2 separate regions of the Homo sapiens genome follow, and region 1 is linked to region 2. The links come from fine-mapping of genetic effects on gene expression. A gene starts in region 2. The other region holds a variant in brackets. All regions are shown on one strand. Distances are between the middles of the regions. Region 1 has its middle 160 kb from the start of TFAP2C. Region 2 holds the start of TFAP2C (transcription factor AP-2 gamma).

Evidence for each region. PIP is the estimated chance that this variant, and not a neighbour inherited with it, causes the effect.
Region 1: its variant is fine-mapped to the expression of TFAP2C in sigmoid colon (GTEx, PIP above 0.99). The same link has a PIP of 0.9 or more in transverse colon.

What each region holds. Positions count from the first base shown.
Region 1 is chr20:56,782,710-56,797,455 of GRCh38, reverse strand. It overlaps the pseudogene RNU6-929P. Among named protein-coding and RNA genes, the nearest start is that of TFAP2C, 160 kb to the right of the region's middle. RefSeq lists enhancers at 7,577-8,335, 8,336-9,095. The variant G/A (reference allele first, on the strand shown) is at 7,410.
Region 2 is chr20:56,622,548-56,637,293 of GRCh38, reverse strand. It overlaps TFAP2C (transcription factor AP-2 gamma), which reads right to left and starts at 7,988. Exons shown (of 7, transcript NM_003222.4): 1 at 7,702-7,988; 2 at 5,604-6,089; 3 at 5,438-5,489; 4 at 3,725-3,941; 5 at 3,026-3,144; 6 at 540-684. The coding sequence starts at 7,749. RefSeq lists enhancers at 1-496, 9,441-10,201, 11,726-12,488 and silencers at 7,667-7,961, 8,018-8,077.

The DNA of each region.
Region 1 (14,746 bases), 160 kb before region 2:
GAGTAAGGCGTCTTCAAACCATGGAACGCCAAGGGTTGCTGACAACCATCAGAAGCTGGAAGAGGCAAGGAAGGATCTTTCCCCTAGAGCCTCCAGGAGGAACATGGCTTTGCTGACACCTGGATTTCAGACTTCTGGCCTCCAGCACTGTGAGAGAATCAATATCTGTTGTTTTAAGCCACTAAGTTCATGGAAATTTGTTGTAACAGCTCAGGAAACCACTGTGGCATGTTAAGCCTCATCCCAGGGCCTTTGCCCTGGCTCTTCCCGTGGCCTGAAACGCACCTTCTGGGCCTGCTCACCTGTCTGGCCCCTATTTTCCTTCCTGCATGAGCTCATTTCATTGCAGCTTCAGGGAAGCCTCTTCTAACTTCCCTAAGGAGAATCCCTTTCATAGACTCTCTGGCACCATTTCTTCTCTTCTTTCCCCCAGCTTTATTAAGGCATAATGGACAAATACAAAATTATATCTATTTCATTTCTTCTCTTTCACAAGGCTTATGAGAGTTGCAATTTTTCATTTATCTATATCTGTGATTAATGCCTTTGTCTGTCTCCCAAGCTGAACTGCAGTTCCTAAGGGGGCAAGGATGGCAGCAACCTCCTGTTCACCTCTGAATTTCCACCACCAGCCCACAATGGATACCCAATAAATATGCAGAAAGCCAATGCTTGATGTCACTCACATTTTCCATTTTAAGTGAAAATTACAAATCACATGTGAAATAACTGGATCAATTAATAAAAAGAAATAAGAAAACCTAAAAGTCCCACCTGGCAGGCAGAAGCCAGAGATGAGGTGGGTGGGGATCAGCCCTGGGTCCTGCGGATCCTCAATCCTCCCAGGGCACAGGGTGACGCAACAGAAGTAGCTTCCTTTCTGTGCAGTATCTCAGAACTGATCTGCATACAAGCTTCCTCTCCTTATCAATGCTGTGGCCAACAGAGGTGCAATTGAAACTCTGATGGACCCATTCCAGAAACCTGGGCGGCATAGAAAGCTTGCCAGAGCAAGGCTTGGCCACTGCTGGGGAGGCACCTGATTAAAGGAGGTTCTTGTCTGTCCTTCCCCTGGGAGTCAGAGGGGGTCCTGGGCCAGCCAAGGTCATGGTCCCTCAGTGCTCCGGGAAGAATTACTTGGCAGCAGTTAGTATAGACCAGAAATAGTTACTGAGGCCCTACTGGGTGCCAGGCACAATGCTAGGGGCTAGAGAAACAGGAGTGAACTCATGAACTAAACTCCCAGCCCCAAGAAGAAACAGATGCCTATTAATCGATTATACAAGCAAATTAATAAACTATAGGTTTTAGACAGGGCATGGTGGCTCACGCCTGTAATCCCAGCACTTTGGGAGGCCAAGGCAGGTGGATCACTTGAGGTCAGGAGTAAGAGACCAGTCTGGCCAACAGAATGAAACCCCGTCTCTACTAAAAATACAAAAATTAGCTGGGCATGATGGCATACGCCTGTAATCTCAGCTACTCAGGAGGCTGAGACACTCGAGAATCGCTTGAACCCGGGAGGCGGAGGTTGCAGTGAGCTGAGATTGTGCCACTGCACTCCAGCCTGGGCGACAAAGTGAGACTCCATCTCAAAAAAAAAAAAAAATTGAAAAAAAAAAAACTATAGGTGGTGATAAGGGTATGACAGAGAGGTACTATCTACAAGGAGAGCATGTAATAGGATTATCAGACCTGGTTTAGGGAATCAAGAGAGGCTTCCTGGAGGAAGTGACATTTAAACCAATACTTAATGGACAGCCATTCCCAACCCCATTCTCCTTTACTCATTCCTTCTATCAAGGCTGCAAGAATTAAACACTTTCCCAGCCTCCACTGCAGCTGGGGTTGCCATGAACAATTGTGACTAATGAGATGCAAGCTGAAGTCAGCTGGCTCCACTGTCCTTCTTCCTGCCTTAAATGGGAATGAGATAGCTGGAGCTGAGGCAGCCGTCTTGTGACCCTGAGGGAACAGCAAAGAGAATCGCAGAGATAGCAGCCCCAAGTCACAGAACCAATACTAGAAACCAGCCGCCTCCAGATTTTTTGTTATGGGAGAAAAATATGTCTGTTTTTGTTTAAACCACTATAATTTTAGCCAAAAGCATTCCTAAGTGAAACAGGTCTCAAAGATGAGTAAGTTAATGAAGGAAAGAGTGGCAGGAAGAGTTTTCCAAAGAGGGGAAACAGGCTGGGCATGGTGGCTCACACCTGTAATCCCAGCATTTTGGGAGGCCAAGGCAGGCAGATCACTTGAGGCCAGGAGTTGGAGACCAGCCTGGCCAACATGGCAAAACCCTGTCTCTACTAAAAATACAAAAATTAGCCGGGCGTGGTGGCGGGTGCCTGTAATCCCAGCTACTTGGGAGGTTGAGGCAGAGAACCACTTGAACCTGGGAGGTGAAGGCTGCAGTGAGCCGAGATCGCACCACTGTACTGCAGTCTGGGTGACAGAGTGAGACTCCATCTCAAAAAAAAAAAAAAAAAAAAAAATGGTCAGGCACGGTGGCTCACGCCTATACTCCCAGCACTTTGGGAGGCTGAGGTGGGTGGATTACGAGGTCAGGAGTTCGAGACCAGCCTAACCAACATGGAGAAACCCCGTCTCTACTAAAAATACAAAAATTAGCTGGGCATGATGGTGCGCCCCTGTAATCCCAACTACTGGGGAGGCTGAGGCAGGAGAATGGCTTGAACCCAGGAGGCGGAGGTTGCTGTGAGCTGAGATTGCACCACTGCACTCCAGCTTGAGTGACAGAGCAAGATTCTGTCTTAAAAAAAAAAAAAAAAAAAAGGGAGGAAACAGAATGTGCAAAGGCCCTGGAGTGGAAAAACCCAGTAGGGGACCCAGAGAAGGTCAGTGTGTGGTTGAAGCTTAAAGGGGAGCGGGGAGGGGCATGGGCCATGAGGCTGGCGAAATTGGAAGAGCTGATAGGAGACAGCGAATGGTGGGATGTTAGCCAAGAGCACCATGGAGACTAGAAGAGTTTCAGACAAAGGAGTGACGGGAGATCAGGTTTTCTTTCCAGAAAACATCTCCCTGGCAGGTTCTGGGGAATAGACTGGAAGAAATCAAGGGTGGGAACTGAGACACCAATGATAACCGTGGCTGAGGGAGGGATGCTGGGATGGTGGGAGAGGTGGTGGAAATAGAGAGATCCTTCCAACCAGAGGTTCCCAAGCAGGGCCGGTACTGCCCTTGACATTTGGCAACATCTGGAGACATTTTTGGTTGTCACACTCTCGGGGAGGGTGCTGCTGGCATCTTGCGGGTTGAGGCTGGAGGTGCTGCTCAACATCCTACAATGTACAAGAGATGTTCCCACCGCACCCCAGCAGAGAATCATCTGGCCCAAAATGCCCAGAGTGTTGAGATCATCATGGTCATGGCCCCTCAGCACTCCGGGAAGAATTAATGTGTTTATATTGTGGAAGAAAACTGGACACATGTTGGAAAGATGGGAGGCTAGAGAGAAAAGTTCCAAAACCGGGGCCAGTTAGGAGACGGTGACCCTAATCCCAGCAAGAATCAGCATGGGGTGCAGACCACAAGCTGAGGTCAGTAGGGCTGGACCGCCCTCCCCGAGGCTGAGAATTCAGATTTCTAATCAGAAAGCACCCACAGCTGGGCTTACTAAGGGTAGAACATAGCTGGGAATGATCTAGGCCACAGCAGTGTGTCTGCCCAGCCCTTGTCCTTAAAGAGGAGGGTCCCAACTGCCATCCTGGTTGTCCATGCCCCCACCCTGGCCAAAGCAGACTGGACAAAGGGTGGGCAACAGACTCAAAATGAGTGATCGGCTCTCTTTCCCATGGACGGGCGCTGACCCCTTCTTCCAGTCATGGCATCTGATTGTGCTCTGGGCAACTTCCAGCCCACCAAGACTCTCAGTTATGATGTCCTCCCTCTCCAAGGCATGGGCACTGGCCCCAAGTTCAGCCAGACTCTCTCCTTGGAACTTGAATTTTGAGCAGCCTCAGAACGGATGGGAAATGCTGATTTTCATCCCAGCGGAGGTGCCCTGCGGGACTGTTCTTTGTGCCTGCTCTCTAGAGCCACAGCTCCCTCTGGAACTCCCTTTTGGAGTTTCTGTTTTTAGTTGGAGTTAGAGGCTACTACAAGTTCTCTTAATAAATTTCTTTTTTCAGCCAGGCACGGTGGCTCATGCCTGTAATCCCAGCACTTTGGGAGGCTGAGGTAGGCAGATCAGGAGTTTAAGGTCAGGAGTTTGAGACCATCCTGGCCAACATGGTGAAACCTCGTCTCTACTAAAAATACAAAAATTAGCTGGGCGTGGTGGCATACACCTGTAGTCCCAGCTACTCAGGAGACCAAAGCAGGAGAATCGCTTGAACCTGGGAGGCAGAAGTAGCAGTGAGCCAAGATCATGCCACTGCACTCCAGCCTCAGCAACAGAGTGAGACTCTGTCTTAAAAAAAAAAAAAAATTCCTTTTTTGCTAGTGTATTGGTTTCCTATTGGTGTGGGAACAAATTACTACTAACTCTGTGGCTCAAAACAACACAAATGTATTCTCCTACAGTTCTGGAGGTCTGAAGGACAAAATCAACCTCACTAGACTCAAGTCAAACATCAGTAGGGCTGCGTTCTTGCTGAAAACAGTGGAGAGAATCTGTTTCCTTGCCTCTCCCGGCTTCCAAAGGCCGCCTGCTTTCCCTGGCTCCTGGCTCCTTCCTTGCCTCCAGCACATCTCCTACTCTGGACTGACCCTCCTGCCTCCCCTTCGCAAGGACCCTTGCGATTCCGTGGGCCCACCTTAATAATCCAGGATAATCTCCTCATCTCAAAATCCTTAACTTGACCATATCGGCAAAGTCCCTTTGTAAGGTAAGATTCACAGGTTCTAGGAATGAGATCATAGACATCTTTGGTGGGGGTGGGGGAGGCATTATTCAGCCTAGAAGAGTCCATTTCTGTTGCTTGCAACTAAAGAATTCTGATTGATATGTCAAAAGTCACAAACCCAACCCCAAACTCTAAAGATACTGCATTTTGGCTGAAAGCAGTGGCTCACAACTGTAATCCCAGCACTTTGGGAGGCTGAGATGGGCAGATTGCTTGAGCTCAGGAGTTTGAGACCAGCCTGGGCAACATGGTGAAACCGTCTCTACAAAAAATACAAAAATTAGCTGAGCTTGGTGGTTCATACCTGTGGTCCCAGCTACTCAAGAGGCTGAGGTGAGAGAATCACTTGAGCCCAGGTGACAAAGGCTGCTGTGAACCATGATCATGCCACTGCACTCCTGCCTGGGCAACAAAGTGAGACCCTTTCTCAAAAACAAAAAAAAAAATTATTTTTTATTTGAATTAGAAAGTCTTAGGAGTGGTTTGAACCCCACAGTTCACTGAAGCCCTGAGACTTATTTTTGCCTACCTACCTAGTTGTTTAAGTTACCTGCCTAGCACCTGAGAGCACATTGGTTGCCATCCTATAACAGGTGTGCAGCTACGGGTTCCAAAAATTAGCCCGATGTCACTACCCGAATGCTTTAGGACGTGGCAGATGGATGTAGTGGGATCAGTGCCCCTCCTGGCAGCTCCAGCCAGACCCTCAGCTGAGCTTTGTAGGGGCAGCTGTGTCTTAATGGGAGGATGAAGGAACAGGAACAGGTGGAAGGAAGGAAGGAAGGAAAGAAGGGAGGGAGGGAGGAAGGGTAGATGAATGGATGGGTGGACAGATGGATAGAGGAGGATGGATGGATAAGGGAATCGATGGATGGATAGACAGATGGATAGAAAGAAAAGATTATCCAGTATTTACCAGAATGAGGCCTCAGAAGTAACAAAGCTATGGAAGAAAAAGCAAATACGATGTGTTTATGTTATACGCAGGAGTAAAAGGAGGTGGCAACTTTGCTGGTTTGGTCTGTGATTGAAACAAAAATTCTCTTGAAAACAAACCTCCAGTCAGTTTTGCTTCTGCAAAGCGAACAGGCTTATAACCTCATTACAAAGATAGTCCATGTCACCCACTCTCAGCCTCCCGGGCCATTCAGAAGATTTGGTCCAATGAACAAAGAACCTAGATAGGAAAGCGGCAGCAGGAAGAGGACAGAACCAAACCCTCTCAAAAAGCTATAAAAAAAAGCTCCAAGTTCAGGGAGGAAAAGTAATCATCCTGTAATTTGCTGTTCACTAATGGAATCTATTAATTTATAGCCACAAAAGAATCAGCTAATTTGTGGTTAATGGTGTTTAAAAGATAAACAACATAGATTAAATCTATGGAGCCCAACCCAGGTTCACCAGAATCTGTCTGCACAGAAAGCTCTGGATGGGGGAGAGATGAGCCCAGCCCCAGGCTGCGGTGGACAGTGGCGCTCAGAGGTCTGCTGGGAGCAAAAAGAGATTTGGGTGAAACAGGTAAGCCCGTCCTCCAAGGTACCACATGTAGTCCCAGAGGAGGCTTATTTACTCCATAGGTTTCCTGTAAAATTGCAAATCCTCTCCTCCCTGACACAACACCATCCCTGCTCTCTCCTGCAGGGACCACCCCACCCCACTGCAGCAGTCTCCCTAACCTGCCACATTCCTTCCCACCTCTGGCCCTTGCACTTCCTGCACATGTAGCTGGACGGCCTTTTTTTTTTTTCTTTCTTTCCTGGGAAAAATAATCCAGATTATGGAGAGTTAACTTACTGAATGTCCCCTTGGAGAAGAGGCATTTCACATAACCACATCTCAGAGATTCCTGAACATCTCCCGTGAGACTGCTCCTATCCCATTCTCAGCCCCATTTTACTGGTCAGAAAACTGAGGGCTAGAAAGGTGAAGCAGCTGGCCCAAAGCTTCACTGTACATGTGGGGTGGGTCTGAGATTTGAATCCATGTCTTTCTGCTTCCAGAATCTGAGGGCTAGACCAGCATTTCCCAAAACTTACTTTTTTTTTTTTTTTTTTTTGAGATGGAGTCTTGCTCTGTCACCAAGGCTGGAGTGCAGGGTCGGGACCGCTGTTCACTGCAACCTCCGCCTCCTGGGTTCAAGTGATTCTCCTGCCTCAACCTCCCGAGTAGCTGAGATTACAGGCATGCGCCACCATGCCTGGCTAATGTTTGTATTTTTAGTAGAGATGGGGTTTCACCATGTTGGCCAGGCTGGTCTCGAACTCCTGACCTTAAGCAATCCGCCCGTCTTGACCTCCCAAAGTGCTGAGATTACAGCCGTGAGCAACTGCGCCCAGCCTTACTCATTCTCATAACAACATTTTTGCCATGTCTGCTACCACCTATATGTATGATATTTGTTTAAATGGACTCCCTGCCACTTTTATTTTTTGTTAATTTTAGTTTCATCCTGAACAATGTTATCCAGGTCTGATAAGTTAATAACATAGTTGCTTCTAACATAAACTTGGAATAAATACCTGACTACTAAGATAAACATGT[G/A]CCTGTGTCCTGCCTTATAATCTTATAAACCTCAGTGGTTCAAGAACTACACACATTTTAACCACACATCCCAAAAAGTCATAATCACACGGTGTGTGTCCCGCTCACCATAGCCTGCATGCACTATCAAGTTCTAGCCTCTGTCAACCTTCTCCTGATATAAGCCACCCTTGAAAATGCACTGGGCCAGGCGTGGCGGCTCACGCCTGTAATCCCAACACTTTGGGAGGCCAAGGCGGGCAAATCACGAGGTCAGGAGTTCGAGACCAGCCTGGCCAACATGGTGAAACCCCATCTCTACTAAAAATACAAAAAATTAGCTGGATGTGGTGGCAGACACCTGTAATCCCAGCTACTGGGGAGGCTGATGCAGGAGAATCACTTGAACCCAGAAGGCAAAGTTTGCAGTGAGCTGAGATCAGGCCACTGCATTCCAGCCCAGGTAACAGTGAAAGACTCTGTCTCAAAAAAAAAAAAAAGAAAGAAAGAAGAAAGAAGAAAGAAAAGAAAGAAAGGAAGGAAGGAAAGAAAGGAAGGAAAGAAAGAAAATGTATCAAAAGCCCTCCTTTTTCCTGAAGGCCTCTTGACTCCTCCAGCCCAAAAGCGCCCCTCCCTTTGTTGACAGCTAGAAAATTCATGCCATGAGCAAGCCACAAAAAGACAGGATAAAAAACAGGATGTGGCTTTTGTTTCTTCAAGTAGACTGGAAGATCTTGGAGGATTATAAAAAAAAATGAAAACAAAACAATTCCTATACCTTGAAGTCTAAGCTCTGGGAAACAGAGATGGACGCACACAGCAGGTGCTCAATAAAGCCTGGGGGAAATGATGGATGTGGACACAGTACAGAGAGGGGGCCAGGCAGCACTTTCATGGCTAGGTTGGGGCCGGCCTGAATCATCCTTCCTCCTTTGCTAACAAGGGTCAAAACTTCACCTGGGGATGCTCCCTCCCTTCCCACAGCCCAGGGCTCCAGGATGGGCCTGGGACACAGCCTGCCCAGTCCATGCAGAAAATCCCCCTAGCTATTCCCATTGGTTCAGAAAGCGGGTCTGTTACCCAAACCTGGCTGAGGGAGTCAGGCCCAGCATTTTTGTTCAAATGGATGAGGATGGAGCAGCTCTTTCTTGCCAGCTTGAACCTGGGAGCCGTGGGCCTGGAAACACTGTCACCTTCCTGCTCCCACAGGGAGCCTGGGAGTTAGAACCCTTGTGGAAGAGGCAGAGACATAAGAGAGGGCAGGGCTTGGCAATGTGATTTGAGATCCTGGATCAAGACATTCCTGAAACAAGTTCTACCCTTGGATTTTTTTAGACAAACTTTTTTTTCTTGGCGTAAGCCTTTTTGAGTTGGGTTTTCTGTTACTTAGGCCCAAAAACACCCTGGAGGAACCCCTGACTAGGAGCCAGGGAAGCAGACTCAATTGTATCTGGGGTCTAAATGACCCTGGGTGAGTCATTTCATCTCACATGACCCTGCCCCAAAGAGGCCTTCCCTGACCATTCTTTCAACAGCAGCTTCCATCCCTCCCTACCGCTCACTTCCTTGTCCAGCCCCATCATTGCACAATATCACATTCCATATTCATGACCTTGTTTGCTAGTACTCTGCCTCCCTCACTGCGGTGTCCTCAGAACTCAGAATAAGGCTGGCATGCAGACACCTTCTGTAAATATTTGTTGCAGGATCTTGCCTCGGTTTCTGCAGCTGTAAAATGGGAGAGCAGTGCTGCGTTGTCCTCAGTAGCCTGCCATCAGGGCTGCATTCACTTCCTCCTTTCATTGCTGCCACCCAGGCCTCCGGGAACGTGGCACAAGGTCTCACCCAAAGGCGCTGGAGTGCCTCCCAGAAAACTACCTTTCCCACAGAGTAGAAAGTTTTATGATTTTCCTCCATTTCTTCCTCTGCCTACACAATCTCATTGACTAGAAAGTCCCTCTTGATGTCTAACCCAATATTTCATGCTGCAACCAAAGTCTATTTATGTGCATCTTTTCTGAGTTCTGGAGTTCAGCAGCTGGAGTGCTGACTTCCAGACATTCCCAGCCAAGTAAGAACACAAAAGAACCAGTTTAAAGTGAGAAGAAATCCAGTGAGAAAATAAAAATTCCTTTACCTAGGAGATGCCCTCATTTCCTTCCCATGACCAGCTTCTGACTCGTCAGAAAGCTCTTTACTTGTCTCCACACCTATGAACACAGCTCTTCCAGAGATGTGGGTACAGAAGATGAGAGTAAAATAAATAAACTATCTGTTTAATCATTCTTATTGCCAAAACAACGGCTGAGCCAAAATACCGAGGCTCTGATTCATCCCAACTGACGTCCGTTCTAGGGAGGAGGCAGGAGGCAGGGAAGTAAGAATTTTTAAACCCGTTTTCCAGATGAATTCAGAGGAGGCTGGGACGTTCCACAGCGCCAACCCCACAGTAAGCAACAGAAGCGAACCACTTTCTCTTTGTGGTCGAGGATCTGTCTTCTCTTCATTTAAATAGGGCAGAATTCAGTGGCTCGCACCTGTAATCCCAGCACTTTGGGAGGCTGAGGCAGGTAGATCACTTGAGGTCAGGAGTTCGAGACCAGCCTGGCCAACATGGTGAAACCCTGTCTCTACTAAAAATACACAAAATTAGCCGGGTGTGGTAGTGGCGCCTGTAATCCCAGCTACGCAGGAGCCTGAGGCAGGAGAATCACTTGAACCAGAAGGTGCAAGTTGCAGTGAGCCGAGATTGCGCCACCGCGCTCCAGCCTGGGCGACAGAGCAAGATTCCATCTAAAAAATAAATAAATAAAAATAAAAATAGGCCGTCGTTGTGGCTCACGCCTGTAATCCCAGCACTTTGGGAGGCTGAGGCAGGTGGATCACCTGAGGTCAAGAGTTCAAGACCAGCCTGGCCAATATGGTGAAACCCCGTCTCTACAAAAAATACAAAAATTAGCCAGGCTCAGTGGCAGACACCTGTAGTCCCGGCTACTCAAGAGGCTGAGGCAGGAGAATCGCTTGAACGTGGGAGGTGGAGGTCACAGTGAGCTGACATTGCGCCACCACACTCCAGCTTGGGTGACAGAGGGAGACTCCATCTCAAAAATAATAATAACAATAAAAATAAAAATAAAAATAAATGGGGCAGAATTCAAAGGAAGATACACAGTACCTAGGATGCAGATTTCATCATTCATTCACTCACTCATTCATTCATTCAAGAAAATGAAAAGCCTCGACTGAGCACCTTCCCTGTGCCCCAAGCTGGCTGTCTTCCCAAGTCACCTTGCACCTTCCCCACCCCTCTGGGGGAGGAAAGTCAGGAATCATCCACCCATTGGCTGAGTCGGGAGGCTGAATGACGTAATTGTTGAAAACATTGTTCCTAGTCTGTTCTTTGTCTTTTAATTTTATTTGTGGTGTTTCTTGACGTCCAGGGATTGTTAATGTTCATATAGTCAAATCTTTATGTCTTTCCTTTGAGGACTCTGGCCTGAGATACCTAGAAAGGGCTCCATGGGGAGTAACATTTAGAGCCATATTTAAGGCCATACGTCATGAGCAGTCAGGGGGTCCAAGGAGGCGATCCTGGCTCATTCGTTCATTTTACAAATGAAGAAACTGAGGCTCCATGGTGAGTAGGCAGCCCTGCCAGAGTCCAGGATTCTACCCAGGGCTCTTTCTGCACATAATGAGTTGCTCAGAGACCCTTATAAAAGTTAAGAAAAGACAGAGGGCTCTCCACCTCCCAGGCTGCATTGCCGAGTGACTGACACAGCTTCTGTGAAGCCAGAGGCCATCTCATTCGCCCTATAAATTCCGTGTCATCTGCTTTGCTCTGAATATTCGTTCAACTGTCCCGCTGTGGCTATGGGCCCTCAAACCCATTCCCCTGAAGGCCCTTCTAGGCTTATGAAGGCAGACACCACCAGGGAAAACATGAAGAGTCAACATAAGCATCCAAAATTCCAGGGACTGTGCTCGCTCCGGCAGCACATACACTAAAATTGGAACGATACAGAGAAGATTAGCGTGTCCCCTGCACAAGGATGACATGCAAATTTGTGAAACGTTCCATAATTTTTTTAATAATAAAAATAAATTCCTGGAACAGTGAACTCATGGAAGCAGAAGGTAGAATGGTGATTGCCAGGGGGTGGTCAAAGGATACAAATTTTCCGTTAGAGAGGAGGAATAACTTCAAGTGATCTGTTGTACTACGTGGAGACTATAGTTAATAACAAGATTTTTTTTTTTTTTTTGAGACAGTTTCCCTCTGCCACCCAGGCTGGAGTGCAATGGCGCGATCTCGGCTCACTGCAATCTCCACCTCCTGGGTTCAGGTGATTCTCCTGCCTTAGCATCCTGAGTAGCTGGGATTACAGGCATGTGCCACCACACCCGGCTAATTTTGTATTTTTAGTAGAGATGGGGTTTCACCATGTTGGTCAGGCTGCTCTCGAACTCCTGACCTCAGATGATCTGCCGGCCTTGGCATCCCAAAGTGCTGGGATTACAGGTGTAAGCCACCGTGCTCAGCCAACAAGATATTCTTGAAAATCAGGAAAAGAGTAGATTTTAAGTGTTCTCACCACAAAGAATAAGTATATGAAGTAATGCATATGCTAATGAGCTTGAATTAGCCACACTACCAGGTATACACATTTCAAAACATTATGTTGTATACAATAAATAAATACAACTTGTATTCATTATAATTAATTTTTAAAACTCCTGGACACGAAAAACCATCACTAATACAATTAAAAGACATAAAACAATGAGGAAAAATATTCCCAACCTACATGACAAAGTATTTAGCCTCTTAAAATAGACAAAGCTCGTATAGAGTCATAAAAATGGCTAAAGAAAAATGACAGGCAAATCACAGAAATGGAAATAAAAGTGGGCAATGCATGCAGGAGAAATGTTTAGATTCATGAGGAATCAAGCAATGGAGGTGGAAATTGTAATTGTAATGACATCATTCCGTATCTCTTTCAGAGTAGCAATATTTGAAAAGAATGGTAACCCACGGTGTTAGCCAAATGGAGAAATGGTACCCTCACAACTGGAGGAAAGAAACAGATTCAACTGTTCTGAGTTTTGGAATACATATTAAAGTCCTTTAAAATGTGCATTTTTTTTATTCCTAAGGAATTATTTAGAAACTACGTATAAGGAAAGAAATGTATTTCCACATCATTTATATGGGAAATGTTGAAAGCAGCCTGTAGGCTCAGCACTAAAGAACTGGTGAAATATTCTCCAGTACAGACTTTGCTGTAATGATATGAAGCCATGGAAGTGACTGATGCTTCATAAAAGATGATGACAACATGCAGTTAAAAAAAAAAAAAAAGGTTAATAGGCTGGGAGCTGTGGCTCACGCCTGTAATCACAACACTTTGGGAGGCCAAGACGGGCAGATCGCTTGAGGTCAGGAGTTCGAGACCAGCCTGGCCAACATGGTGAAACCCCATCTCTACTGATAATACAAAAATTAGCCAGGAGTGGTGGCGCATGCCTGTAATCCCAGCAACTTGGGAGACTGAGACACTCGAGAATCACTTGAACCCGGGAGGTGGAGGTTGCAGTAAGTCAGGATTGCACCACTGCACTCCCACCTGGGCAAGAGAGCAAGACTCCATCTAAAAAAAAGTAAAATAAAATAAAATAAAAATCAGGTCACAAATCAATATGTATACATCATTCCATTTCTGAAACACACACACATACATGAGTACAAGTACACAGTAAAAAATCTGGAGGAAATATTCACCAAATTGTTAACAGTGGTTTACTTTGGAGGTAGAATTATTTATGTTTTTTTCCTCTGCATTTTCGTTAATGTATCCCAGGACTGGAGAAGATGAGGAGGGGCTGGGGAGACAGACTCACATTCTTGTTGGAAATGTTATTTGTCATAAACTTTCTAGGCAAATATGATGGCATTTATCAAAAGTCTTAATATGTGTGAATCATTTCACCAGTAATTTTACTTCTAGGAATTTACCCTAAGGAAATAATCAGAGATGTGTGCAAAGACTTATATACCAGGATATCCATTGTACAGTTATTTACAAGAGCAAAAAGTTGGAGCCAGCCTAAATATCCAACAATAGAGAATTGTTTAAATAACTGTCGGTTTGCGTTTACAATGAAGTGCGATGCAGTCATTTCAGGTGATGTTGCATATTAGATGTCATGACAAAACATTCTTGATATAAAGAAAAAAACAGTTTAAAATGGCAATATGATAGGAATATTGTAAAATACTATACCCAATAAATTATGAATTCTTATGTACAAAAGGCTGAAAGGTAGATGTTTGCTGTGATAAGCACTGAGTGATAGGATTCTAGGTCATTTTTATTTTTTCTTTGTGTTTTCCTACACTTTGCAATTTCAGTACAAAAAAAAAAAAGGTTACTGCCACAATATGATCTTCTTTAAGAAAAAAAAAATCTCAGGAACATATAAACAAAAAGAAACTCATCATTCATCCCTGTAAATTCTCAGTTCCATGCCAGACTGTTGGTGATGACAATCGCGGAGCTACCTGGGGAGTCAAACGACCGGGTTTAGGATTCAAATATGCCCCCTCTAGACATCCTCTGTCGGTGCCAGCCGGAATCGGTCCTCCCCTCACAGCTGCTCCCAGCCAATCCACAAGCTTCAGAGGGCTGAGAAGAAAACGGATCTGTTTCTATTTTATTTATTTATTTATTTTGAGATGGATTCTCACTCTGTCACCCAGGCTGGAGCGCAGCGGCACGATGTAGGCTCACTACAACCTCCGTCCCCCGGGTTCAAGCAATTCCCCTGCTTCAGCCTCCCACGTAGCTGGGATTACAGGCGCCTCCCACCATACCCGGCTAATTTTTTGTATTTTTAGTAGAGATGGGGTTTCACCATGTAGGCCAGGCTGGTCTCGAACTCCAGACCTCAGGTGATCCACCCACCTCGGCCTCCCACAGTGCTGGGATTACAGGCGTGAGCCACCGCGCCTGGCCAAAAACTGACCTGTTTTTAATATTGGGTAAAGAATCCTGTCGAGTCCAGCTGGCCATGCTCCCCACACTTGCTCAGTCATCTCTGTTGTGTAATGGTGAAGTATTCGCCGTATTCTCAGAAAGCTCATAGTCAGGACAGGAAAGAAGTTCCTAAATATGTGTTCCGGGGCTCACCCCCTTTTCTTGTGGGGAAAATCAACCCCTTTGCTAAAGATAATTAAAGTCACAGAAAGCCTGGAACTGCATCCCTGGGATTTTTATCCCAGAGGCTCCGGGCTCACACAGCTAAGATTTTCAAACCTGACTACCTCTCACTGCTAATGAGGACCAGAATGGGAG
Region 2 (14,746 bases):
GCGCTCTCTTTTACCCCATTTCCTGGCTCGACTAGTTCTGCTTCATTTACCATCATTTTCAAATCAACTTACTGTTGGTTTCTATGAGAAAACCCACAGCTGCATTAAGTCGTTTTGGAGACAGTTAATTTGCCCACAAATCCACCCTGATCTTTACATTTGAAAGACAAAAGTCTTGCTATCAGGAGGTAGAAGGCACACAATCTCTCTTTACTGGTTGTGACAAAACAAATCGGGTTTTCAACACATTTTTGTAAGATATGCTAACACAATAATGAAAGGGCAGCTCAACTACTTTGGGTTGAATAACTAAGCAGCTCAAAAATACTCATGGCTGAGTCATGCACTCTTCTAAATCATACAAAAAGTTAATGTATTTGACTTTGTAAAAGAAGCTCCCTTGCCATTTTCTTTTGCTCCACCCTAATTTATTTCAAGAATATTTCTTTGTTGAGCCATCGGGACTGTGGAGGGGGAATCTTCTCAACCTCAAGGTCTAGAGCATTGAGTCATCATCAAATTCAAGTTCAGATACTTACTGGGCCGCCAATAGCATGTTCTTCCTAGCTGCCATCTCATTTCGTCCTCCAAGATGAGGTCTGGTTAAATATTCTGCCACTGGTTTACTAGGAAATTCGGCTTCACAGACATAGGCAAAGTCCCTAGCCAAATGAACAGCTTCACCTAGAATAATCAGCAACAGCTTTTAGGATGGCTGTGGTCACTGAGGCCAAACTGCCCTTTTCCTCTCTCTTTTTTTTTTTTTTTGACACGGAGTCTCGCTCTGTTGCCCAGGCTGGAGTGCAGTGGCCCGATCTCTGCTCACTGCAACCTCCACCTCCGGAATTCAAGCAATTCTCGTGCCTCAGCCCCTGAATAGCTGGGATTACAGACATGCACCACCATACCCAGCTAATTTTTGTATTTTTAGTAGATACAGGGTTTTGCCACATTGGCCAGCTGGTCTTGAGCTCCTGGTCTCAACCAATGGCTCATGCCAGGGATTATAGACATGAGCCACAGCACCCAGCCCCCATTTTCTCTCTTTCTAGTAGTATTCATTGTCTACCAGTCATACGTTGCATGCAAGAACGAAATCATATACAGGGCAGACAACTCAGCTGGTAGGTAGAACTTTCTAGGGATTCTCAGTAGGTCCTCCACCCCAGGAATAGAGGGTGGAGATCACACAATGTGAGCAGAAAAGACCCTGAAACTTCTAACTGCACAATCAAGTCAGCCCTCTGTATCCGTGGGTTCAGAATCTGTATTCATCCAAACTCAGATTGAAAAGATTCGGGGGGGAAATAATGAATGGTTGTGTCTGTACTGAACACACACAGACTTTTGCCATTATTCCCTGAGCAATACAATGTAACAACTATTTACATAGCATTTACATAGTATTAGGTATTATAAGTAAGTGATGCAGAGATGATTTAAACTATACGGAAGGATGTGTGTAGGTTATATACAAATATAACATTTTGAACATCCTCAGGTTTTGGTATGGGACCTGGAACCAGTGCCCCATGGATACTGAGATGAGTAAACTTGAAAAATGTTTACCAGTCCTCTGCTCAACAGATAATCAAACATACCCATGTTTTCTCTTTATATTAAGTAGTATCATTTTGGGGAAGTAGGAAAATTTAAGGGCTATAAACATGTTTGACAAAAGCAAACTAGTCACTTCTCTATAAAATGGTGACATCTGACAGCTTACTTTTTTTTTAATAGTGCCTTTTTACTGAAGGGGCAGATCTCTAGAATGTTTCTTTTAAAAAAGATGGGAGGGATGTTTCTCCTAAAAACCAACTTGGAGCACCCTTTTCCCTGTCCAAGTCAGTGGAAGAGCTAAGGGAGGCAACCAAGAGAGTTTCTCCCACCCAAGAGGTACCTTCCCTGGCTCCAGGGTGCAGGACTGGTGAGCTTTGCAAAAACCCAGATGGTGGAGGGGCCCCCTGGGTTGACTGAAGCAGCCTTGGAGAGCCATTGTTCTGGAGCACACTTTCTTATTCAATCACCCTGCCTGGCTAGCAAGAAACCCCAGCAGAACCGCCGATTCTACAGGCAGGACAGCTGTTCTCAGACAGGCAGCTCCTTTCTCCTTGCCCTGACCTCCAAAGGCACTCGTAAAAGGTAAAGCAGGGACTCTGCCAAGTCTCTTTGAGCACCACGTCACGCCATCAGAGCAAGGAAAGAAAGTCTTCAAAAGAGGGTACTGCCACGGGGAGCCCGTTTCTCCTTGGCTTCCCCTGCCCATAGTGAGAGCCCTAAGCCTCTCTCAGCGTCCAACTCTTCCCGGGAGCAGTAACAACATGCTTTGTTTTGTTTTTAAAAAATTATTTTACTTTCCCTTCAGCTCCTTTTAAAGGTTGTGTTGCATTCTTGGCTACTGTCCAGGTTGGGGTAAAGGGGCCCCCCATTCAAGAAACTGAAATGCTATGTCCTACTATCTTAGCACTGGCAAGAGGAACTTGTGCGTGGGCCAGGGGTTCGATTAGTTTTTTTCTTTGGATGGGAGGGAAGAATAGAATTGTGAATCGGGCCAGTCGTATTGTATACAAGAGGTTCTCTTCACTGACCACAATCCCCAGCTACAAAATAACCCACAGCTACAAAAAACAGAAGCAGTACTTCTGCTCACCAGTAAGTAACCAGCTTTTACTCAAGGTGTACCAAATGATCAGCTGTTATCTTCCAAAAAAACTGGTTCATTTAACAGGAAATGCCGACACCCCTAGAGTGTGATTTCTTAGGTTAGGAAAACCAGTTTCTTTCCAACATTGATTCTCTGGGGGAATACAGAAGAGCCTACCTGAGCAACCAGATACTTAAATGTTAACTTATTCGATAAAATTAACTGTGATTCATTCCAATAAACTTAGAGAACAATTCCAATTGCTTTCATCTCTACTTGCAACCAAGTTTTAAGAGTTGTTTTCCAGTTTTTCTGCAATAAGTATTAAAGACACAGGCACAAATTAAAAACATCACGAACCAAAAACAAAACCCCACTGACCTTCTACTAAGGATGTCAGGAGAGTCACATGAGCGGCTTTCCGCCTCCCGGCCGGAAGATTCAACCCAATCTTGTCCAACTTCTCCCGCAAGGACCGGCCTCCATTTTTCGATTTGGCTCTAAGAAAAAGAAAAATTGACTCTGGCTACTCTCAAAAACAAAAACACATACACACGCACACTTTAAAAATTCTAAACTCCTAAAGTGCTGCTGTCAAAGCTGAAACCCATCAAAGACTATCTACATCACGTGAACCATAATGAAAAGTGATAGCAGGGTCCTCTTTCAATTAGTCCCCGTAAGATACAAAATCAATCTTTCCTAGCATCCAACTCTGCATCACCGAATATTTCAAATTGTATGGGAGCAGACAAATTTTCACTTGTGAAACTACAACGGCCCCACAAAAACTCCCTGGGGAACAAACCCAGGGTGCTCCCCCCACCTCCCCTCAATACAGATGCTATCACTTCATACATGGGATCAAATTCTAACCAAGTGAGAATTTGTGAGCGTCGTTTTAGCACTTCCTCCCACATTTGGCACTTTCTAAAGGAGAAGAAATGTACTAAAACTCTAACCCGATTAGAATTCAGTGTTAGGCATAAAGTCACATAAATGTTAAAAATACCTCCTGGGCCTCTGATACACTCACCTTCAACTACCCAACCACTATGCCTAGAATTGTGCCCCAAGTACCTTCTGAGAACACCTCCCAGTAACGAGGCATTTAAGCATTCAGGTGGGGACAGTCGCCTCTGTACTTCAGCCACTGTCACTTTGTATTTAGACGTAGAGCTGAGGAGCGACAATCTTCCAGGGACTGAGCAGAAGACCTCAGTGGGGTTCATTACGGCCCCCACCAGCTCCTTCTGACAGGGGAGGTTCAGAGGGTTCTTGGTCATGGAAATGGGACCTGTGAATGAAGGTCAGAGCTGGCAGTCACAAGAGCTCTCTCTGAGCAAAAGAGACCTTTTCAAAACCAATAACCAAAGCTGAAAGTGATCTTTAGACAAGCATCATTGCACACCCCACGATCAACTGCAGGCTGACTTTATTTAAAAAAAAAAAATAATAAGAGTCTCACTCTGTGGCCCAGGCTGGAGTGCAGTGGTGTGATCTCTGCTCACTGCAGCCTCAGCTTGCGGGCTCAAGTAATTCTCCAGCAGGTGCCCACCACTACATCCAGCTAATTTTTTGTATTTTTAGTAGAGATGGAGTTTCACCATGTTAGCCAGGCTGGTCTCAAACTCCTGACCTCAAGTGATCTGCCCACCTTGGCCTCCCAAAGTGCTGGGATTAGAGGTGTCAGCCACTGCACCTGGCCATGGCTGACTTTTTAAAAAAGCCCCCTACTTCAGAGACAAATCTAATCTGAAATTCACAAGTTAACACCTTGGGAAGTTAATTAGTGAAGATCCAAAGCTTGGAGGGTTTCTTTTTTTTTTTTTCCTAGCAGCTGCTGAAAACTATTTAATTAGAACATTTGTTTTCAGAAGACTGCTTCAATACTAAATAAACGGTGAGTTTTTTCCCCTCAAGAACAACCAAAATCATAGGACACATTAAGATTCTTTCCAAAATTTTTCAGTGCAGTTGATCACAGTAAATTTAATCATCCAAACTAATACGTTCTAAGTTTACTGAAAATTTGTAGTCTTTTCTGAGTTTTTCTTTAAAATCCATTTTTCCTCCATCCTCAATCCATTTAAGCAGTTCAAGTAACAGGCCAAAACTACCTTCAATTTAGGCCTACTCTATTTCCCAAAACAGTCAAAATGGTAATCCTGGTAATCCTGTCAGTTAAGTAACTTAATTTCATAAACCACTCACTCACCAAGTAATCCAATTTTCCAAATCCCCTCCTCCCCATCCTGCAAAACTCTCCCTCTGACAGATCATTCCAAGCTCTGTTCCTTTTACAGGTATTCATTTGGTAGGCCAAATTGCTTCAAAACTTTTCTTGCAGGTCAGAATTAAGGAGGTTTTCCATACACGTGTTTGAAATCAAAAATAAAATCACAACTTATTCAACAATTAAAATTGTTACAGAACCAACCACTCAACGAAGGTGTGCCTGTGACTTTTTTCTTGTTGTTTTTCAAGTTAAATCAGTGTTCACTCGCTCTGGAAGACTTTCTCTCACATTGTGAAACACCCACTGGAATTCATGGACATTTTTCCAAGAAAAAAAACTAGGCAGTAACAACTCCGGAGATGAAGAGACAGCTCCTAGGAGGTCGGAGGGAAATCCCTTTCTGTCACTCCTAAAATCTAGCTTCCATGAATCCCTTTCAGTCCCTTCTACCACAAATGTCCCACGCTGGCCACCAAATACCCCCAACCTTGCCAGTCAACTTCACAAGCCCAGATCGTGTGACCAGAGTTAGACGATGCCACCTTGCTATTTACCTTTGCGAATGACTGTCTGATCGTGCAGCAACAGGTGCTGGTCGTCGACATTCTGGGGGAGAGAGGACAAAATTCCCTTAAGTTCGGGGGAGCCTAGAGGAGTGCGGGGTGGGGGCAGAAGGCCGTAGGGTGAACAGGTCCGGTCAGGAGCCGCAGCGCCGCTCACCTGCACCTCGTCCATCTGGTGAGGCATGTCGTGGAGCCCCAGGTTCTCGGCCAGGCCCGCGGCATCCAGGGCGTGTGCGTGGGGCAGCAGCAGGTCGGAGCGGCGGTAGGCATCCCTGCGGGCGCTCACCGCGCCCGCCTCCAGCCCGGAGAGGTGGGGCAGTAGGCCGGCCGGGCGCCCGTGGTGCGAGGGCAGCCCCGCTCCCTCCTGGCTCTGGCGGCCGGGCCAGGCCTGCTGCTGGCTGCCTGTGGGCGCCGGCTGGTGCAGGGGGTTGATGGCGGCGGCGTACGCTTCCCCCAGATGCGAGTAGGGGTCGGCCGACTGGGAGTAGGCCAGCTGCTGGTAGGGAGGGGGAAAGTAGGGTGGCGGCTGATATTCGGCGACTCCAGTGTGGGAGAGGGGTGGCGCGGGGCTGTAGAGGTGCTGCCCGGCGGAGGAGAGGTGGGGGACCCGCGGATTCCCATTGCTGCTCCCGTCGTGGCGATCCTGGAGGGAAAAAAAAAAACAGGAGACCCCGTTAGTGCGAAACCCCGCTACTGCGAACTGGCCGGCATCGCCGGGCTACGCAGAGGGCCCCGGGGGACCAACCGCACCCCGCCCGGCGGGGCTTGCCCAGGGTCGGAAGGTACCCGGGGGCAATGCGCCCCGAGGATTTCGTTGTAAGCAAAGAGTGCGGGGAGGGAGGAGAGTCTGGTGAAAGACCTGGGGGAACGAGTTCTCAAAGCCCGGCGGCGAAGGTCTAGGCGCTGCTCCCAAGCCCGAGGCGCTTGGAGGCGCCAAGTCCGAACCCTGGGTCTTGGGCCAGAAAAGTCCGTGGCCGGAGCCCGGGGCGAAGGAGCCAGAGCCCGGGGCGAAGGAGCCGGACGCCCGGTGCAGAGCTATCTCGTGGAGCCCGCCCATGACGCAGGGACTGCTGGAGGTGGCAGCGCGGCAGGCGCGGATAGAGTGCGCGGCGCGGGAAATGCGCACCTCCCCCGCCCCCGGGACCCTCCCTTCCACGCCCTCGGGACAAAGACCTCCGAGCGGGCGGCGCTCGGAAAGCAGGGCCCGCCACCCTGCGCCGCCCTGGGAAGTGAAGAGGGAGCGCGCGCACAGGGCGGCCCTCCCTGCTGGCCGGGCCCAGCCGAGGGGAGTAATAAGTGGGGGCGCCCTGCACTGCCAAGGGCAGTGTTCTCGCACGTCGGGGCGCAGAGGGGGCATGAAGAACCCTGGAAATTGGGCAGCCTTGCCCGCGCACGTTCCCTCGCCCCTGGGCGGCCCGACTCAGTTTCTAAAGGATGCGTCCCCATCTGCCCAGGGGTCTCGGGGCGCCGGGAACCTGGAGGAACATGGCGCTGTCGCCTCCTGGCGGAAGCGCCCGGGCCTGCGGGCAGGGGCAGCCCTCCAGGGCCCGGAGGCGCAGTGAACTCCCGCGAGTCCGTAGCCCGAGCTCCGCGCTCCCGGCGCCCCTGAGCTCGCCTAGCGCTGCCTGCGTCTTCTTCCTCTTCCCGCTCGCCGCCTCCTTCTTCCCTCCCACTCTCCGAAACTCTAGCTCAACCTGTCCGACAGGCTGGAGCACTCGCGAGCTCTTACGGCCCCATCTGGCCTCGGGCACCCCCACCACCACTCCCCAGCCCCCACTTCTTTTGAAAGCCAAACTTCGGTTGTTTTCGTGCTTCCCCGAGGAGGTAGCGGGGCAGGTGACAAGCCGGCCTTGGAGGAGTGTCCGCCAAGGTGTCGCTAGCAGGTAGCCTCATCTGACCCCTTTGGACAGAGACTTCGTGCGTAAAAGCCACGTCTGAGGGTTGCAGACGGGGCACTTTTCCGAGAAAACGGGAAGCAGGGCTGTTTGCCGCTTAGGAAAGCGCCCGGTAAGCTGTGTGGGTGGGATTTGCCATTCTCTTTCCAGGCCTCGTTCCCGAGGGGAGGCTATTTAGGAAAAGGCCCTATACAGGAAAGGGGCCCCGCAGAAATGGACTAAGGGGTGTCCGGAGAAGTGGATCCCGTCCCACCGAGAGGCCAGGGCTCCTATGCCCTCGTCCCCGACCTCGGTCCAGTGGCCCCTGCCTCCCGGACTGTCCTCGGCGGGGCGGGGCTGCACCCCGGAGCCCCAGCTCACCTCGCAGTCCTCTTCGTACTTGACATTATCGGTTATTTTCCACAACATGGCGTCCGGCGTCCCCCAAAACAGTCGCCAGTTAAATCCAGGATCCCCCCAGCCCCCAAGCGGTAAATCCAAAATCGGGGTCACGGTGACCAGGCGTCTGCCGCCGCCCCCGCCGCGCGCGGGCCTTGCTGTCCGGGTCACTGGACACGCATCGGCGGCTCTGCGAGCGTAGATGCTGCCGCCGCGAGTGTCAAGACCGCTCCGCGGACGGGGAAAGCCGCGCCCGAACAGTGTGTCCTGGCGATAGCCGGGGGACCCGAGCGCCTTAATGAGAAGGAAATTATCATAACTCCTCCCCGGGGGCCGGCGCGGAGGCCCAGGCGCCGGGCGGGGCGGCCCCCAGCCAGTCCCAGCCTAGCTCCGCCCCGCACCCGGGCCTGGCGCAGCGCCGAGCCCCACGCTGTGAGGGACGAAGCGCGGAGTCAGTGGGCGGTGCCTCGTTGACAGCCGAAGACCTGCGAGGCCTGGGTCCCCCGACGCGCCTTCCTTCTGTCACCTCCACCGTAAACACACCTGAGATTGGCAGAGCTGGGGGAAGGGATCCAAATACTGAAACCCACCCCTCTTTCGCCTAAACGGCCTTCACTCGTTCCTCCAAAAGACGGATGTCACCTGGAGTTAAGAAACTGCGCATTTGGGGAGCGACTCAACAACCGGGGTCTCCTCATCTCCTAAAAACACATCCCATCCCACCTACACCCCACTGAGGCTTAAGGTCTGAGCTGGGATCATGCAGCTGGAGCCCCAGTGCGCCAGAGACGCCCAGTTCCCTCCGTGGGCACAGCGCGGTCCCGGCCCCCGGGCGGGAGGAGAGAGGAAGGGACTCCTGGGGAGTCTGCCCCAAGGGCCGCAGAGGCAGCAGACGGTCCTACCCGCCCAGGAGTTGCGGACAGCGGCGTCTCGCCGCTGTCGCCCGAAGTGGCATCTCCCGCGGCTGGCTGAGGCCAGGGGGAACCCGCGCGCACTGGACCAGCCCAGCGGCCCGGCCCTGCCCTGCCCTGCGGAACGCCGGCTCTGCAGCTGCCTCTGGCGGGCCGGTCACTCAGAAGCCTCTACTCGCCCTGGGAAAGAAGCGCCGGGCAGGAATAAAACCCGAGCGCCACGGGTAAGGTGAGGGTGAGGAGGTGCAGGAAGTTGGGAGAGAGCCTGCAGAGAGCTCTCGACTGGAGAGGTAGACACCCAGGTCCCACATGTTTAGACAGAAAACGAAACTTCCTTCCACACAAACGCTGCTTCCCTCTCCCCTTCGGTACTTGCCACCCAAACTTGAAAGCAAAGTGCAATACTAATTTTTAAAATTTAAACTAACGAAATTCTTTGGCCCAGTTATTATGCAGCAATTGACTTTCATTGTAAGGGGAACATCGCTAATTCTCGAGGGCGTATTTGTTGGGACGCCCCAACTGGCTCCCTGGGCTGGATTTAAACATTCTGTGGGGATTAGAGGACAAGACTATTTCTATTTGATACTGAATACGATTTTGCAATAATCAATGCCTATCAGTACGGTGTCCGCACCTGCAGTAGACATGACTCTCCCATCCACGGAATGGCGGCATCCACTGCCTCGCTGTTCCTTCTCGGGTTCGTTTGAACTTTAGCATTTATTTAGACCCAGGTGGGCCTAAAAGAAAATAATAATAATAGGCGTCCTCCAAGGGAAACTTTCCCCCGGCCTTAGACAGCAGCCAAATCCCAGGTGATTTTCCGACCGGACGCGGGAACAAAATCTGGAAGTTGAAACCACTGAGACTTTTCGGCCAAGCATATCTGCAGGGCTTTGCACTAAGGAGAACAGTGCATAAAAAGACACACAGGACCCTGACACTTCGGTCCCAAAACAGGCTTCTGGGGGTAAAATAAGTTACCGCAGAAGCAGCGCTCCTGGTATTAGCGGCGGGGGAGGGGGACACCTGCCAGAAGCAGAAATTAGACCCAGGCCCGCAGGCACTCCAGAGCACAGGTCCAGGAAGATGGGTCCTAGACTCGCCAGAGGTGCGGCGCCTCTTTCGGGCGCCTGGGACTCCCTGACGGGTGCCGCTGGGCTGTCCGACATTCTGGGCCTTCTAGCCCTCGGTTTTATTCTCTGACCCGGCCTGAGGTGCAGCTTGAACAAGCTGTCTTGTCTGTGCTGGCAAGTTTACCTCCTGCACGCTGGGGCCCGGAATGGGCAAGAAGGTGCTCATCCCCCATCCCAGGCCCTGGCTCTCCTTTCCCACAGCAACACTAGCCAAAGCTGCCCGGAGGAACCGATATGCCTCCCCGCCTGGGAGCGTCTACGCAGGAGGCGAAGGGAGCCGATGGGCACTGAGGGCTCGCGCAGCACCGTGCCGTGGGCCCAAAGGACCCAGAGGATCCGGAACCGCTTGGCAAAGGCCATTCATTCCCAAGGAGCTTCCCTGGACCCCGGCGCTGCCCTCTTTCCAATGGGTAAGCGTTCGAACTGGAGCGCAACCTCCGCGCCCTCTGTACGGAAGGCAGCTAGAACAAATCCTCTGTCTTCTCGGCACGGGAGACCCTTCCCCAATACGCACATTCTCGGCTTCTGGGCCGGCACCCAGGCACGCGCGCGCCCTTGTGAGGAAGCCTCAACCCTTCCTTGACTTCAACTTTTCTGCTCAGCAGAGCCGGGAACCGAAGGCTCCAGCATCCAAGACAGCCTCCCTCCAACGTCCCCGCCCCTTGCCCACGTGAAGACGCGGACTGCGTGGCCGCGCTCAAGACAGCCGGCACCGGCAGAAGGGGACCCCTCTGGAACCCCGGAGGCCTCGCAGCCGCCTGGAGAAGAGGATGGAAGGTTGTCGGGGGTTCCCCTCTACCGCCCCCTAGGGAGCCTAAACTCACTTACTCCCTGGAAGCCCTGGACCCACGCCCCTATGAAACCGCAAACCAGGCCTCTGCAACAGCGGGAGCGCCCCAACAGCGCGCCACTTCCAAAGAGGCGCGAGGTGGTGCCTTTGGAAACAGGGCTCCCGGCCCCAGGCCTGAGTCATCCGCCACCCCTGCCCCCACCCCAGACGGAAGAAGGCGGCCAGGCGGGTAGAGCAAGATTCGGGCAGATCTGCGACTCCTCTTCCCGCCCCAGGGAGGGGACTCCCGAGCAGAAGATGGAGGCCCCCGAGCGCTTTCGCAGACTCCGCGCCACGCGCCGGACGTTTGTCCCGCCTCTCGGGACAACGTGAGCGCCGGTAGGGACCTCAGTAAGTGGCAGACCCGCCAGGATCAAGCAAGGTGGAAAGGCCGGGGCCTGCGGCAAACCCAGGAGGAGGGGGCATTCACGCCCGCCACCCTCCCTTCGCGGCACTGGCACCCACTGGACCGACACTGGCGTCAAAGGGCACCCTGAAGTATCTATGTCCAGTAAGGGCATGCCCTGGGGCACCACAGACATCAAGTCACAGCCACTCCAAAATAATTACAAAAATGATTATCGTAAATAACAGATTGCTTTAATAGGGCGCGAAGCGGCCGCCGCATACAGACGCCTCTGGTCTCAGTCCCACCAGATTCAGTTCACTGCTCGCTTCTTTGCGCTCCGCGTCAGGCCGCATGCTCTTCGTTTAGAACCTTTTGAGCCTTAACTCTTCCTCTCAAACAACTCCTTTTTTCAAACAGGCAAAGTGAGGCGAGGAGCTGAGGGGCTCACAGGTTCCCAAGCTTCCGAGGAGGGCCCGGGTCCACGTCAGTCCCGGCCCGCCAAACGAGACTTCGTGGGCACAGTCTCTAACCTGACAACCACCTGTCCCATTTCACAGCAGGCAAAAGTGAATTTTTAGTCGCCCAACTACCTGAAAGCCACAAAGGTGCCTAGGGTTGAAGGCCACTTTCCTAGCGGTTCTACTAGGGAGCCCGTTAGAGACATGCCTGACTCTCCCCCTGCCCTGCCCCGGGGGGGACCCCCGCCCGCCGGAGGCCTCACACGCTTGGCCGTGGGATGGTAGACTCCTGTCACCTCTCCACTAACATCCCGGAGCCCATCCGTACGCACCCTAACCGCTCGGAGCGCAGGCCCGAGGACTAAGGCGGTAGCCTCGTGTCCCCTGAGGCCTTCTCCGCTCCGTGTTCTGGGTCGCCATACACTTCCCGGCTAAGCCCGGCGCCTTTAACTCAGAACTTGGTCGCCTCCAGGCGTGGAGCAGGCCACTGTTGCCAGACGCTGCGCGGACCCGTCTTCCTGCGCCAGTACTGGGCGACAGGCAGCCCGGGCAGCACCCAGGAGCCACCCTGCACGGCCCCAGGCGCCCGTCCCACCCAGCGCCACCCCTCGCCCTTCGCAGCGAGTCCTCCCGCAGCCTCTCCTCTCTGCTAGCCCCCGGGGTCGCACCTGCCCTCCACACAGACACCTCTTTTCTCACCCGTAGGAACTGGAAGCTCATGGTGCCAGCTCTCCAACCCTCTGTGAGTTGAGGAGTTTAAGAGTAGGAGAGACGTAGAAAAAGAGTTCCCCGAGGGCCGAGTCGTGTGCGGTAAACACACGCTTCCAGCGTTTATTTAATTAACGGGAGGGGGAGGGGAAGGGGGGAAATTCACAGCCAAAACGAGCTATCGCGATTGGAAGACTGGCAGGAAAGGTCCTGGTTACTCCTCCCCTGCCCTCCTCCCCTTGGAAACTATAAACTCTGCATTTGAAAAGGGTATACCCTAGGGTTTTAAATTATCTTTACATATGTATATGACAAGCGGTACGTAGGACTTCTTCAGTCAGAAATTATTTTAAATGTAGCCTACCTCTTACTGGCAAGGGATTTTTTTTTTTAGTTGGTTAGTTTCTAAGACCAAAAGTATTAACATTTCTGGGAATTCTCAGCCTTCATGTCACATCACAGGTTTCCGGGTTCAGCTGAAATTGAACCAGGGGTAGTGAATTCTTGGGGTAGGGGAAGAAAGGGAGTGGGGTTTGGGGTCTTCCTTAAGTGCCAGAGAGATTGGTTTGCACATTACATGCTAATTTGCCTTAAAGAAAGGGGCAAAGTACATGGAAGGAAGGAAGGAAGAAAGGAAGGTAGGCAGGCAAGCAAAAACCAAGAGCCCAGTAAAATAGAATAAGAAGACTGTAAACACAGAAATAAATGCTGATGGTTGACTCTACCATCAGTTTAAACATCCCGGGACCCACTGTGATCACCCAGGCCAGGCAGGAGAAATCAGACTTGTACAGAAGCTGCTTCTCATCATCTGAGTTCTTGCTGGTTTTCACACAAAACCTGCCCAGGCAACCCAAACAGCTTCCTTCCAAGAGAGGTGAGTTGAAAACTTATCCAAGATTGCTCTACATATGCCTTAGAAGAAATAAAAAAGCAGCAGCAGGCAAGCAGAGTTCCACCCACCTGCTGGTAACCTCTCCCAGAGTTTACCAGTGCCCCAGTAGCCTTCAAAGGCAGTGTTTTGTTTTATTTTATTTTATTTATTTATTTATTTATTTATTTATTTATTTATTTTTTGAGATGGAGTCTCGCTCTTGTTGCCCAGGCTGGAGTGCAATGGCGCGATCTTGGCTCACCGTAACCTCCGCCTCCGGGGGTTCAAGCGATTCTCCTGCTTCAGCCTCCAGAGTAACTGGGATTACAGGCATACACCACCACGCCCGAGCCCGGCTAATTTTTGTATTTTTACTAGAGATGGGGTTTCTCCGTGTTGGTCAGGCTGGTCTCCAACTCCCGACCTCAGGTGATCCGCCTGCCTCGGCCTCCCAAAGTGCTGGGATTACAGGCGTGAGCCACCGCGCCCAGCAAAGGCAGTGTTTTAAATGCACAAAGAGGCTGGGCGTGTGACTCACGCCTGTAATCCTAACACTTTGGGAGGCCGAGGCAGGCGGATTACCTGAGGTCGGGAGTTCAAGACCAGCCTGGCCAACATGGTGAAATGTCTCTACTGTCTCTACTAAAAATACAAAAAATTAGCCGGGTGCCTTGGCGCGCACCTGTAATCCCAGCTACTCTGCAGTGGCACGTGCCTGTGATCCCAGCTACTCGGGAGGCTGAGGCAGGAGAATCGCTTGAACCCAGGAGGCAGAGTTTGCAGTGAGCCAAGATCATCCCATTGCACTCCAGCCTGGGTGACAGAGCTAGACTCGGTCTCAAAAAAAAAAGAATGGAATGTGCATTTTTATGCTGCACAAAACAAAAAGTGACTTCAGCACAGCGACACTTTCATGGAAAAAGGGTTTAAACATTCATCCCTGGCTACTTCTTGGGCCAAAAAATAGGCAGAATACAAAAATGCAGGGAAAATAAATCTTCATTGGAGGCCTGACTAGGATTTTGATCACTAAGAGCGACACATGCCATTCTGTATGTCCCTGCTACAGGAGTAACTGAAAGGTACACCCAGGCAGGAGGATGGGGTTGGGGGAGGGGAGGTGTAGAGAGAAAGCCAACTTTTTACTTATTTACGGTTGGGTTTTGGTTTTTGTTTTTTCTTATTGCGGGGGTTGCAATTAATATATCCTGTTATAATTATTTCTCAAAATAAGCACAATGATCACTGTTAACATCCTGATTTTATTTAAAAATTTAATCCAGAAAGGAAGATTTTTATTGTTGTTGTAGTTACATGTGATACAATCACAGCAGCAGCAATAAAGAAACATGTAACACAGTGGGCCGGGTGCGGTGGCTCACGCCTGTAATCCCAGCACTTTCGGAGGCCGAGGTGGGTGGATCACGAGGTCAGGAGATCGAGACCATCCTGGCTAACACGGCGAAACCCTGTCTCTACTAAAAATACAAAAAAATTAGCCGGTTGTGGTGGTGGGTGCCTGTGGTCCCAGCTACTCGGGAGGCTGAGGCAGGAGAATGGCATGAACCCAGGAGGCAGAGCTTGCAGTGAGCCGAGATGGCGACACTGCACTCCAGCCTGGGTGACAGAGCGAGACCCCATCTCAAAAAAAAAAGAAGAAAAAAAAAACATGTAACACAGTATCAACTTTTTTTTTTTCTTTTTTGAGACAGAGTCTCAGTCTGTTACCCAGGCTGGAGTGCAGTGGTGCCATCTCAGC